Linked DNA regions of Homo sapiens. Each later gene encodes a partner of the first gene's protein in a complex. Each region holds a gene or a part of one and is shown in the gene's direction. Other genes may lie near its edges.

What was found. The genes of interacting proteins can lie anywhere in the genome.
Region 2: the proteins of ABL1 (region 1) and CRK are in contact, whole or in part, in an NMR structure (PDB 1JU5), measured with the Homo sapiens proteins. Residues at the interface, in NP_005148.2 of Homo sapiens: Tyr70, Phe72, Asp77, Asn78, Thr79, Asn94, His95, Asn96, Gly97, Glu98, Trp99, Trp110, Pro112, Ser113, Asn114, Tyr115; in NP_058431.2 of Homo sapiens: Pro44, Asp46, Asn63, Gly66, Pro67, Arg68, Pro69, Pro70, Val71, Pro72, Pro73, Ser74, Pro75, Pro80, Gly81, Ser83, Pro84, Ser85.

Annotation. Positions count from the first base shown.
Region 1 is NC_000009.12:130,830,491-130,838,328, forward strand, and holds the start of ABL1 (tyrosine-protein kinase ABL1), read left to right. Parts: upstream 1-4,763; 5' UTR 4,764-4,956; coding exon 4,957-5,035; intron 5,036-7,838. UniProt on the Homo sapiens protein: Non-receptor tyrosine-protein kinase that plays a role in many key processes linked to cell growth and survival such as cytoskeleton remodeling in response to extracellular stimuli, cell motility and adhesion, receptor endocytosis, autophagy, DNA damage response and apoptosis.
Region 2 is NC_000017.11:1,420,193-1,425,232, reverse strand, and holds the end of CRK (adapter molecule crk), read left to right. Parts: intron 1-567; exon of another isoform or gene 568-647; intron 648-1,582; coding exon 1,583-1,720; 3' UTR 1,721-4,540; downstream 4,541-5,040. UniProt on the Homo sapiens protein: Involved in cell branching and adhesion mediated by BCAR1-CRK-RAPGEF1 signaling and activation of RAP1.

The DNA of each region.
Region 1 (7,838 bases):
AGTTGCTACTCCTACCTCACAGCTAGTGTTTCTTTCTCTTCATAAAATAAATTGATTTCCTGGTCCCTTGGAAAACCTCCAGACTGCTTTCTGGAATCATTTTCATATAGCATGTTTGTTAATTTGAGCTCTTGACTGAGTCCCAGTGAGATGTAGGCAGGAACACAGACCTGATACAGAAATAGTCCTCTTTTGGAAATAACAATAGCTACTGTTTATCGAGCACCTTCTGTGCTTTGGGCACTCTCCCTACATGATTCCTAATCTTCATAATAACCCTGTGAGATAACTACTCTTATGACTACCTCCCATTTTTCAGATGAGAAAATTGAGGCTCTGAGAGGTGAAGTCGTTGCCCATGGCCCCACAGTGAGTGGCAGATCTGAGACTCAGCGCTAGCCTTTGTGACACATAACTCGTGACCAGCAGGTAGTGCTACCCGATTGAAAAAATGTGAGACTTAAAGGGATGCATGTGTCCCTATACAGTGGCAAAAACTGGTATGACAGAAGTGATGTTTTAAGCTATGTTATCCTTTAGTTGGACATACACTGGACCCACAGAGCTAGAGTACCTGGCAGGCTCTTGCTGGACAATGTTTGCTGAATCAGAGAAAGTGGGCTTTGTTGGCATTTGCATGTGAAATACTGTGCACATACCTCAAGATCTTTGCTGTTCCCCCCCTAAAGCTACTAGCTATGCTGGAAACAGTGAAGGGGTCAGCCAGACCTGGGGTCACCTTGTCCTGGGGTCCCAAGCCAGGCCTCCTGTCAGGTTCATCTGTCTCTGTTCCACCTGCACTCACACCCAGTCTTGCTGCTGAGAGATGGAGCATCCACATCCTGAATCCTGCCTCCTTCCCTTGACACACTTCTATGGTGGGTGCCTGCCCAACTTTTTCTTAATAGGACTAAATTCCAAATTAAAAAAAAAATTCAGTCTCTCTCCTCTAATCATCCAAGAAGAGTCCTCTTTTGGTAACTTGTTCTAGAACTATGCCTATCTTAAATTCAGAAATTGCTTTCAAATGAATTAAATTTTAGAAATATCCATTCCTGTTCGTCCTATTCCCAGTGAAAATAAGCAACTCTTCCCTCTTCCAAAACAGTGGATTTCTTTTCTTTTTTTCTTTTTTTGAAATGTAGTCTTGCTCTGCTGCCCAGGCTGGAGTGCAGTGGTGCAATCTTGGCACACTGCAACCTCCACCTCCCAGGTTCAAGCGATTCTCCTGCCTCAGCCTCTCGAGTAGCTGGGATTACAGGTGTGTACCACCATGCCTGGCTAATTTTTGTATTTTTAGTAGAGACAGGATTTCCCCATGTTGGCCAGGCTGGTCTTTAACTCCTGACCTCAGGTGATCGCCCACCTTAGCCTCCCAAAGTGCTGGGATTACAGGCGTGAGCTACTGTGTCTGGCCCCCAAACAGTGGATTTCCATCTTACATATGCATACAGATCATCTGGGAGCTTCAGATCCAGCCCATTACACATATTCTGATTCTAGACTAGAAACCAAGACTCCGCATTTTAAGCAAGCCCCACATTATTCAAAATAGATTGTCCATGGATTATGCTTTTAGAAACATTGTTCAGATCCCATGCTTTAATGTTGGGGAGTTTATCCTTTCCTTCTAAATATTTTTTTTTTTTTTGAGATGGAGTCTCGCTCTGTTGCCCAGGCTGGAGTGTGGTGGTGCGATCACTGCTCACTGCATCCTCCACCTCCCAGGTTCAAGCAATTCTCTGCCTCAGCCTCCCGAGTAGCTGGGATTACAGATGCCCGCTACCACGCCCAGCTAATTTTTTTGTACTTTTAGTAGAGATGGGGTTTCACCATCTCAAAAAAAAAAAAAATCTTAAATAGCTCTAGTTCCCTGAATTATTTTCTCCTAAGACATGTTTTCCCAACAGTTAATGTTACTTATTTCATCTTCTGATCTTACTCATATTATCCACCTTTCACTTAAATTGGAAATTTTCTGCCATTTTACAAAGTTCAAGACTTTCCTACCTTCCTACCTCCTGGCTGTGTGAACTTGGACAGAATACTTCCCCCTCTCCCTCCAGTCAGTTTTCTTACTTGTGAAATGGAATTAAACTATACAAAATCATTAGGTTACTGTGAGGCTTAAGAGTGCCTGGCACATATTACATGCACATTAAAAATGTATTTCTTCCCAAACTAATGCAACATAGCAAACAAGTTAGTTCACAGTCTTTAATTTCTTTCCTTTTCCCTTTCTTTTTAGCTAATAGCTTTTGGGTCTTAGGCTGATTAGAAGGAATCCTTCTTGGGGTGTTCTTCTGGTAAGAAGATTGAAGCTCTCCTTTATTTGCTTGTAACAGAATGCTCTTCGTATCTTTCAAAAGCGTCAAAAGCTGGATATGGAAAGTATAGGCCAGGTTTGATACAGAAGTGTAGTTTGGCAGTTTTTTCAGTATCCATTGCCACTAATTCAGTATTTTGTTAGATCTGTTGATGTATGGTTTTATAACTAAAATTAAAAAGATTTGGGTACAGTTTATAAGCATTATTCATTTTAAGAGGATTTAAGAGGATAAGATCATTTTAGACTCAAGAGCAGAATATTAGTAATAATAATTAGCTTAAAAAAATAAACATATACCAATATAAAGAACAGCACAAGGCAAGCAAATATCTGGGCCTATATTAACAGACGGTATTCAAGGATATGGCTAGAATTTCCAAAATGCCTAATAATGTGTAATTCTTGGCATTAAGCCGCCAATTTGAATATGGCCCTTTAATATGAAATGCTATATAATGACAGACTTTATTATAGTCTGATCCAAGGCCCCTGAACTTTCCAAAAGGGCAACAAAACAGACAGATACTGTATTTTTTCACTAGTTGGTACTGGTGGCACCCTTTTGAGTGTTATTTTTGGCATTACGTGTAGAGGTTGACAGATTCAAGACAACACTAAACATGTTAGCAGTCACCACACGCAGGCTGTCCAGCAGAATGACAGCGCTTCCCAGATCCTAGAAAGCATCCAGAGTCACTGCACCCATCCCCTGGGGGCCCTGTAGTCCTGCATCTCCAGATGATGGGAGCTGCAAACTTCCCTGATGGTGCCCTCTTGGATGCTCATGAGGCCTGATCTGGTACCACGACTCTAGCAGTAGGTCCATTCAATGGCAGTAAAAATACATGTTGTATGTTGATCAGAATTTGGCAGGACACATGTGGAAAGTTAATGACATCCTGGCCGAGAACCCCTGTGATATACACTGGTTACATCCTGTCCAACTGGAGTTTTTATGTGCTGTTTTTGGCAGAGCCAAGTGAAGATCTTGTTACTTAGCCATTCCTGAGGTACTGAAGATACCCGGGTTTTTGTCATTACAGGATAGGCTAGAAAGTAGCCAGGGTCTCATAACCAAGGCTTTCTCTGAAACATATAATGACAATGCTAGTTATTTGACCAAAGATATCCAATGCTTTAATCCACTTGGAATTTATTCTTGATGTGAAGGGTCAGCATCATCCACTGGTCGGGAGCCTGATCCTTGGAGCCAGGCAGACCTGGGTTGAGTCCATCTCCGCCTGTTTCCAGCTGTGGGCAAGGTGTCTGACTTCTCTGAGCATCTGTGGGGTTTGTTTGTTTTTAAACCTGAAGAATTGGGATAATCTGTTTCCTCACAGAATCATTACGCAGATGCAATACAGTTAATGAAGGTAACATGGCACATAGGAAGAGCACAATACACGTCAGCTCTTACTCTTCATGGCTAGAAGATGTGGACTAAACTTCCCCCTTTACAGTTTTGTGATTAACACCATTTATGAAAGAAATAAATGAAATAAATTCCTTTTCCTGTCATGAGGGGAACTTACCTGATTTTATTGAATTATTTGGTGCCATTGAGTTCCTTATTGTTTCCCTCTGACCTAGATTTCTGGGTGTGCGCCAGTAACACGACTGTGATTGTTGCTGCTTTATAACATTGTCTGTGGTCAGTCCAAACAAGAGTTTAAAATAATTGAATGAAATGGATTTTAAACAATGGTCCCCCCACCCTCACCCCGTGGCACTCGGCCAAAGGAAGAGGAAAAGTTCTCTGTTAAAGAAAATGAATCAGAGAAGAGGCCCAGACCGTGCCTCCGAAAATTCTCATTGTAGGGACTAAGTCCTCTCACTCTGAACTCACACCCGTCTGTTCGCAGCCTGACCTCATATCCTGGTCTGGATGTGCGGCCTCACCGGGGTGTCGTGCGCACGTGTGGTTGTCCTGTGGGTGCCAGCTCTGACTTCCTCCCCAGACACCCACTGCCTCAGCCTTAATCACAGGACGCGCGTTGAGTAGAAATGAGACCAGTTAGTATTGGTAACTGCAGAGGAATATGCATTTTCACCAGCGTTCTCGGGTCAGAGGGTTTGCCTGGCACCGCGTACTGGGAAACTCGCCAAAAGCGGTGCAGGTTGGAGACGCCCCAGGCCGCGGTGGAGTTGCGCGCGGCTTCTAAAGTGGAGTGGAGCAGGCCTGCACCCTCCCCGCCGGGGCTGGGACGGCGCTTCCAGGCGGAGAAAGACCTCCGCGGGCCGCGCGCGGCCTTCCCCCTGCGAGGATCGCCATTGGCCCGGGTTGGCTTTGGAAAGCGGCGGTGGCTTTGGGCCGGGCTCGGCCTCGGGAACGCCAGGGGCCCCTGGGTGCGGACGGGCGCGGCCAGGAGGGGGTTAAGGCGCAGGCGGCGGCGGGGCGGGGGCGGGCCTGGCGGGCGCCCTCTCCGGGCCCTTTGTTAACAGGCGCGTCCCGGCCAGGCGGAGACGCGGCCGCGGCCATGGGCGGGCGCGGGCGCGCGGGGCGGCGGTGAGGGCGGCTGGCGGGGCCGGGGGCGCCGGGGGGGCGCGCGGGCCGAGCCGGGCCTGAGCCGGGCCCGCGGACCGAGCTGGGAGAGGGGTTCCGGCCCCCGACGTGCTGGCGCGGGAAAATGTTGGAGATCTGCCTGAAGCTGGTGGGCTGCAAATCCAAGAAGGGGCTGTCCTCGTCCTCCAGCTGTTATCTGGAAGGTAAGCCCGGGCCGCACGGGTTGGGCTGAGTAGCCGCGCGCCCTCCCGCTGCTGCTGGGCCCTTCCTAGGCCTCGCCGCCCGCGCGCTCCCGCCTGCGCCCTCCCCGGGTCTTGTCTTTTTTTTCTTTCTTCCCTCTTCTCTTCTCTTCTCTTCAGTTCTCTTATATTCTGTCTCTCTTTCTTTCTCTCTGTGTCTGTCTCTTTTCTCTTCTCTTGTCTCTCTCTTTTTCTCTCTCTCTGTCTCTTTCTCTTTCTCGCGATGGCCCCTAGGCGCCGCCGGCGGAGCGTGGCCCCCAGCCCCGGCACCAGCCCCGGTAGAGCCACGCCGGATGGTGACGGCGGCGTCCGGGGCCCCACAGTGCGGGCTCCCCCGAAAAAGTTTGAGAAAGCCAACTCGCCAGGCCTTAACATCCCTGGGATCCCACGTTGTGGAATTTCCACCGTTAATTGGGACTGTGTGTTAAAAAGATCGACCCGTGTTTGTGAAAACATGCGATTTCCATTAAGCATCATGTACACAAGGAGCACCACTCTACCATTTATGGATACAGAATTTCAAGTGATCTTTCCATCTCCCCCACCCCCATCTTATCTACAGACCACGAAGAGGTCTTAGGAATTCGCTCTCTTTTCAGGGGAGGGGAGCCCATTTAAGAAGGCGTTTCCAAGGAGTCCCCCAGAGTACTGGGGTGTCATGTTCGTTTCCTTAAGTGAAGCTCAGGGCCAGGAGGGCTTCACTTTTGCGTTCTTTCTACCTACTCTCCTTCTCTAATTACATCTGTTTTATTTTATTTTTCTTTCCTGTTGTAGTCTTTAGTTTTATAAATGGAAAAAAAGTAAATTAAGGGTTATGGGTCTTCACTTTCGTAGCTTCTAGGTGGGTATGAAATTGATCTGATTTGAGACTGGTGCTCCCAGACCATTGCCTTCAGCAGAAAGGCTATCTGTGCTTCAGAGATGGAGTGGCACTTGGACTTCTCTGTTGTTTTCAACTAAGAATATAAGAGTAAAAATGTGGCCGGGCGCGGTGGCTCAAGCCTGTAATCCCAACACTTTGGGAGGCCGAGACGGGTGGATTATTTGAGGTCAGGATTTCGAGACCAGCCTGGCCAACATGGTGAAACCCTATTTCTACTAAAAATACAAAAAATTAGCCGGGCGTGGTGGTACACGCCTGTAATCCCAGCTACTCGGGAGGCTGAGGCAGGAGAATTGCTTGAACCCGGCAGGGGGAGGTTGCAGTGAGCCAAGATCGCGCCACTGCACTCCAGCCTGGGCGACACAGCAAGACTCGGTCTCAAAAAAAAAAAAAAAAAAAAAAGAGTAGAAAGAAATGTGAAGCTCACTTTAGATCAAGTAGGATTTCTGCTAGAATGCCATGTTTTTCTTTTTAAAAAAGCAGGAGAAATAAACAGGCCTCATTTATTTTCTAACCTATTTTTCTTTCCTTAACCTCTGACTCTACCCTGAAGGCCTGCTTGGAGTCACATATGCAGATCGCACTAGTGATGTGGGTGAAACCTGTTTGCCCTTCTTGCCACAGTTTGTGTACCTCACTCCTCTTCTGTCTCTGGGATTCCAGGGGGCTGAATGGCCCAGAGAAGGCTCATCTAGGTGGAGTGGGCTCACAGAGCCTAGCATTTGGAGGGTGGAGATTGTTTATTTGTCCCTAAAAGTTGATGTCTGAGCATTCCAAATCATCTTCAATTAATACATCGCTTATTTTTTCCAAGTTGCTCAAAATTCTGAGCACATTCTCATTTACATCTGTATCGAGTTAGTGTTAGGCATCATCATCTCCACTTTGCAGATGGGTGCCTAAGGCGGGGATGAATGGACTTTTGTAAGTGCAGAGCTGGAGCAAAGTTTAGGTCACAGCTTTGCCAAGTCATTGTTTTGTTTTCCTGGGAGTAAACCGGAGATTTAGTATGGACCTGGCTGGTTTAATTATTGTTTTGGGAAAAAAATCTAAAACTCATTCCAACATGTCTTGAAATGAATTATAATGTTGACTCTAAAGTCTCAAAAAAAAAAAAAAGTTCTAGTACAGCAGACTGCCTTGGGTTAAACCTTCTTCTAGGAAGGTGTCACTCTAGGAATTCTTTCTTACTGAGTTTTCTTCTTTTCGTTGTTATAGTTAATTAGAGAAAGTAAATGGAATTATCATTTTGTAGTTGGTAGACTTTAACAAGCCTCAGCGATAGTCTTTTAAAGACTGGAAGTGCTATTTGTCTTTTGGGAAAAATAGTTCCTAACATCTGGATGAGTAATCCAGGCTTTCCACTTTCACTGACAGCCTAAATCAGTCAATCAGTGTCGATCAGTCAGTCAGTGTTTATTGACGCCCACTCAGGGTCCCAGGCATTCCCTGTCAGGGAGAGAATTGAATGAGATCAAGTTTTTCATTGTTCTATCAAAGAAGCTTCCACCATAAATGTGGTTTGATGGTGCATGCTACCTGCTACTCAGCCTAGCTGTCAAAGCAACACTGGTAAACATAAAGATGGCTAGCAATTATTAAATGCTTACTATGTGCCAAATACTGTTTTATTACTCTATGTGATCTGATATAGTTATATTTCATGATAGCACTATGATTATTTCCATTTTATAGATGAGGAAACTGAGTCACCAAAAGGTTAGGTAACTTGTCTAGGGTCACAGAGCCAGTGAGTGGGGGTACTGGAATTTGAACTCATGCTATCTGGCTTGGGAGAGCCCACTTTTAGCCACTGGATGCTCTACTGATGTCTCTTTTGGAATTCACTGTGATTTTCAAAATGGTATCTCCAGAAACTCCTCC
Region 2 (5,040 bases), on another chromosome or scaffold:
CTGTAGTCCCAGCTACTAGGGAGGCTGAGGCAGGAGAATGGCGTGAACCCGGGAGGCAGAGCTTGCAGTGAGCTGAGATAGCGCCACTGCACTCCAGCCTGGGCAACAGATCGAGACTCTGTCTTAAAAAAACAAACAAAAAAAACCTTTATATTTCATTTTGCAACAAGAGACATTTTATAAATAAATGCCAAAACATAAGGTTTTTTTTTGTTTTTAGAGGCAGGATCTGGCTCTGTTGCCCAGGCTGGAGTGCAGTGATGTGATCTCGGCTCACTGCAACCTCTGCCTCCTGGGCTCAAGCAGTCCACCCACCTCAGCCTCCCGAGTAGCTGGTTCTATGAGCAGCCACCACCACACCCAGCTAATTTTTGTATTTTTTGTAGAGACGGTTTCACCATGTTGCTCAGGCTGGTCTCAAAAACTCCTGAGCTGAAGCAATCCATCCACCTGTGTCAGGCTCACCAAGTGCTGGGATTGCAGGCGTCAGCCACTGCGCCCGGCCATGGTTGGTTTTTTTGACCCCTCATTGGGTAATGATCAGGTAACAAGCGGCTTTGAGGGAGCAGCAAGGTCTGTCCGATGGTGGGATTTGGGGGCTGGGCAGGCAGTGGCTTGTGAAGTAGAGCTTACTGAATGAGGTGGGGGTTTTCTGGGAGCTAATTGGACCTGGAGTTTTGGCCTCTACCTGCCCATATGGGAAAAGGCTTGCCTGGGTCAGGAGGTGATAGGAACACTTGATTCTCTAGGACCAAGTGACCTATGCTTGCCATGATCGCTTTCTGCTGTGCAAGCAGTAACAGGCCAGGTCTTGTGCGAGTGGGCTGGGGGATTGTGCTGCTGCCATATGCTAAAGCGGGGAGAAGGCGGCCAGGCACAGTGGCTCACGCCTGTAATCCAAGCACTTTGGGAGGCCAAGGCAGGTGGATCACAAGGTCAGGAGTTCGAGACCAGCCTGGCCAAGATGGTGAAACTCCATCTCTACTAAAAATACAAAAATTAGCTGGGCACGGTGGCAGGCGCCTGTAGTCCCAGCTACTCGGGAGGCTGTGGCAGGAAAATTGCTCGAACCTGGGAGGCAGAGCTTGCAGTGAGCTGAGATCACGCCACTGTCATCCAGCCTGGGTGACAGAGACTCCGTCTCAAAAAAAAAAAAAAAAAAAAACGGAGAAAGCTGCTTCTCCTCGGACAGGGCCTGCGGAGCAGGCAGAAAGCTGAGGGTAGTGAGTACAAAGAAAGGGAATAGTAGCTAACTCACTGAAGTTGGGATTGCTCATGCAGAGACAGCTGAGATTTCCAATAATTATCACTTTCCTTTTTTAATCAAAAAGTATCATTATCTGGAATCCCTTTTACTTTCTGTATTCTCTGTTTTTCCACACTGCTAAAAACACTTTTCCTTCTGCCTGCATTAACCACAAGTAATCAGTCTGGTGGCTGGGGCTGGGGAGGCAGCAAATGGCCATTTCTGTAATATCCCTAGAGCAGTCACATGGGCAGGGTGTGCCTAACCAGAGAATGGAGTTGTTCAGCTTGCATTCCTACCTGGAAATAAAGTGCTCTCCTTATTCTCCTCCTGCAGGTCGGTGAGCTGGTAAAGGTTACGAAGATTAATGTGAGTGGTCAGTGGGAAGGGGAGTGTAATGGCAAACGAGGTCACTTCCCATTCACACATGTCCGTCTGCTGGATCAACAGAATCCCGATGAGGACTTCAGCTGAGTATAGTTCAACAGTTTTGCTGACAGATGGGAACAATCTTTTTTTTTTTTTTCCAACTGCCATCTATACAATTTTCTTACAGATGTCAAAAGCAGTCTAGTTTATATAAGCATTCTGTTACCTGTGATATTTTTTAGACTGAACTGCTCCATTCCTAGTCTTAATTACCATATTCAGGGTACGAACTGGAGGGCTTGTGTGTTAGCTTCTGAATTGGCAATTGGAGGCGGTAGTGGTCGTGCCTGTGTGTATCAGAAGGGATAGGTATCTTGCCTCCTTTCTCTCAGGCAGTGCAAATCACCCTGTGGAAAACCGATGGACAGGAAGGAGTGTTACACACTGCTTACCCTGATTTATTCAGTGGTTTTGTTTTCATTCTGGAACCATACTATCAAATGGCGACAGACTGTTCCGTTCCACCCCCGTGAAGTAATCATGCACCGTGTGAATAGTATCAAGCAGGATTGCTTTCATTGTATGGAGCATGACCAGCGTGTGACTCATTCTGACATTTCAGATCCTAAGAATTCTAAGAACACTACTAGAAGCATTTGTTCCCTCCTAGTCAATGCTTCATACTTTTTCTTGGGATTCTTTTAGCCCTTGACATTCTTGTCCCCCAAACCTGTAAGTAGGTGAATTCCTAAGATAAGTGTGTATTTTCATTCCAGGTGAAAAGCAGGATGTACCGAGCACTTTATTCAGTGCATAGCTTTAAGCCAGTGTTGGATTCACTAAGTGGACAGCCAGTCTCCCAGCTCTCTGCCTTCCCCAAAAGGGTCGTAGTAGGTCACCCTTCTACAGCAGCTAACTAGAGTCCTAACTAATGGGATCCAGCAGGGCCATTTCTCCAGAGGGCCAGTATCCTATTAGGAGACTCTTGGAATTCTTAGGTTCTACTCAAGAGTGGAAGGACCAATCACCTCTGATATTCTGTGGAAGGTTTTGGGGTCAAATTCTGCCCTCTGCATTCTGTGCAACTTGTATAAAAGTCAAGTTAGTATTACATGAATTTGGGGTAGGGTTAGTGCTTTGAAAAAATGTTGAACCGGCTGGGCGCGGTGGCTCACGTCTGTAATCCCAGCACTTTGGGAGGCCGAGGCGGGTGGATCATGAGGTCAGGAGTTCGAGACCAGCCTGGCCAACATAGTGAAACCCCATCTCTGCTAAAGATATAAAAAATTAGCCCGGCGTGGTGGTGCACGCCTGTAATCCCAGCTACTCGGGAGGCTGAGGCAGGAGAATTGCTTCAACCTGGGAGGTGGAGGCTGCAGTGAGCCGAGATCGCACCACTGCGTTCCAGCCTGAGCGACAGGGCAAGACTCAGTCTCAAAAAAAAAAAAAAGGAAAAAAAAAAGAAAAAAAAATGTTGAACCAATTGTGAATTACTTATGTATTATTCATTTCTCATGGGGAGAGTAATGCTGTTGAAGAACATTACATTGTAAACTGCCTTCATTTTTGGCTCTTTGTTTATGTTCAGGTTTAGTTTACAAACCCATTTAAGTATGGAATGATTTATATGGGGTCAGGTGCTCCACAAAATAGACCTATGAGACCAAAAATGACCTAGGCTATTTAGACGACAGCATGAAACTTCCACGTTAGTTCTCAGTCTATAAAGGCACTTACCGGTCTCTGGTGTGGTATGACCAATAGAAACACCTTATAGTTTGCTTTGGACCTCATTTTGGAAAAATAATCTGCCTTTCTAATTGTTCTGCATAGGTTAAAATGATAAATTTACATTCTTTGAACCTATACCAGATTGTGGTGTCCGAGTGACCGGCACACTGTCTGACACACAGTCAGTGTGCACGTATTTGTCTGAGTGAATGAGGAGACCTGAGAAACCGGTGACGTGGCACAGGGAAGCCAGCTGGCCCAGGATTCCGTACATGGCCGCAAGCAGACTAACGCGTTGACGCTAATTTAATGTATTTTACCTCACACTAAGGTCATGCTTGATAAAGACGTTAAACTCAACTTGTAAAATGGTAGCCCAGTGCTATGCACAGAGTGGGTGCTCATTAGTGTTGAATGAACACATTTGTAATACTACATGTAATTCCATCTGACTGCTTTGTTAAATTTTCAGTTAGAACGTAGATACTGTAAAGTCCACACACACATTAAATCTTGTTTTCCTGAAAGTATGGCATCAAAAATACTTGTAGAAAAACCTTGTCACAACTGATTTGAATGTTCCTATTTTCTTTTCCTTTGACTTTGATATTGGCTTGTAATGTCTCTTTTCATCATATGTAATATCAGTGGAACAGGCAGCGCTACTCAAGTCCTAAGGATTCCTCAGTGATCAGTGATCCAGGGCCGTTCATGAACCACTGGGCTGGATTTGACTGTTGAGTGTGGCAGTTAATGCCCCTCAAGAAATCAAAGGATGTCTTATAAGTGTCTTCCAAAAAAAAGCAAATGCTGAAATCCTATTGGCAAAGTAAACTGAAATTGGCTGCTATATTTTATATAATCATTTCTGCAAATCCCATTTTTTGAATACTAATATTTGACATGGTTAATTCTTATTAATTTGTTGGAATTGTTTATTGTTAATAATGCAAATAGATAATTTTTAATTATCCACAAGTAACATTTCACTGTTAATGGTTTGAAATAGGTGATAAGCAAACCAATTTGAAATAAAATATAAACATGTGCCATTGTATTATAACACTATACACTTTCTTGACAGTTAAATTTAAAAAAAAATTTTTTTTGGTAGCATGTATTGTATATGTTTATAGTATATGTAGTAAATAAAAATATGGCCAAATGTTTGGCTTGGTGATCTTTTGCAAAAAAGTAATCTTTGAATATTTTTCACAAAAGAACTAAATCTTTTTTTTTTTTTGAGACAGAGTTTCGCTCTTGTGACCTAAGCTGGGGTGCAGTGATGCGATCTCGGCTCACTGCAACTTCCGCCTCCCACGTTCAAGCAATTCTCCTACCTCTGCCTCCCGAGTAGCTGGGGTTACAGGCATGCACCACCACGCCCAGCTAATTTACTGTATTTTTAGTAGAAATGGGGTTTCACCATGTTAGCCAGGCTGGTCTCAAATTCCTGACCTCGGGTGATCCGCCTGCCTCCGCCTCCTAAAGTGCTGGGATTACAGGCTTCAGCCACCACCGCACCCAGCGAGAGGTAAATCTTTATGCTTAGGGGATAGGAGGTATGTGCCTTCAGCAGCCTGCAGTCATATAATTAGATAAACAATTATACAAGCTCAGTGGGTGCTTATTAAAGATGGGATTAGGCCGGGTGTGGTGGCTCATGCCTGTAATCCCAGCACCTTGGGAGGCAG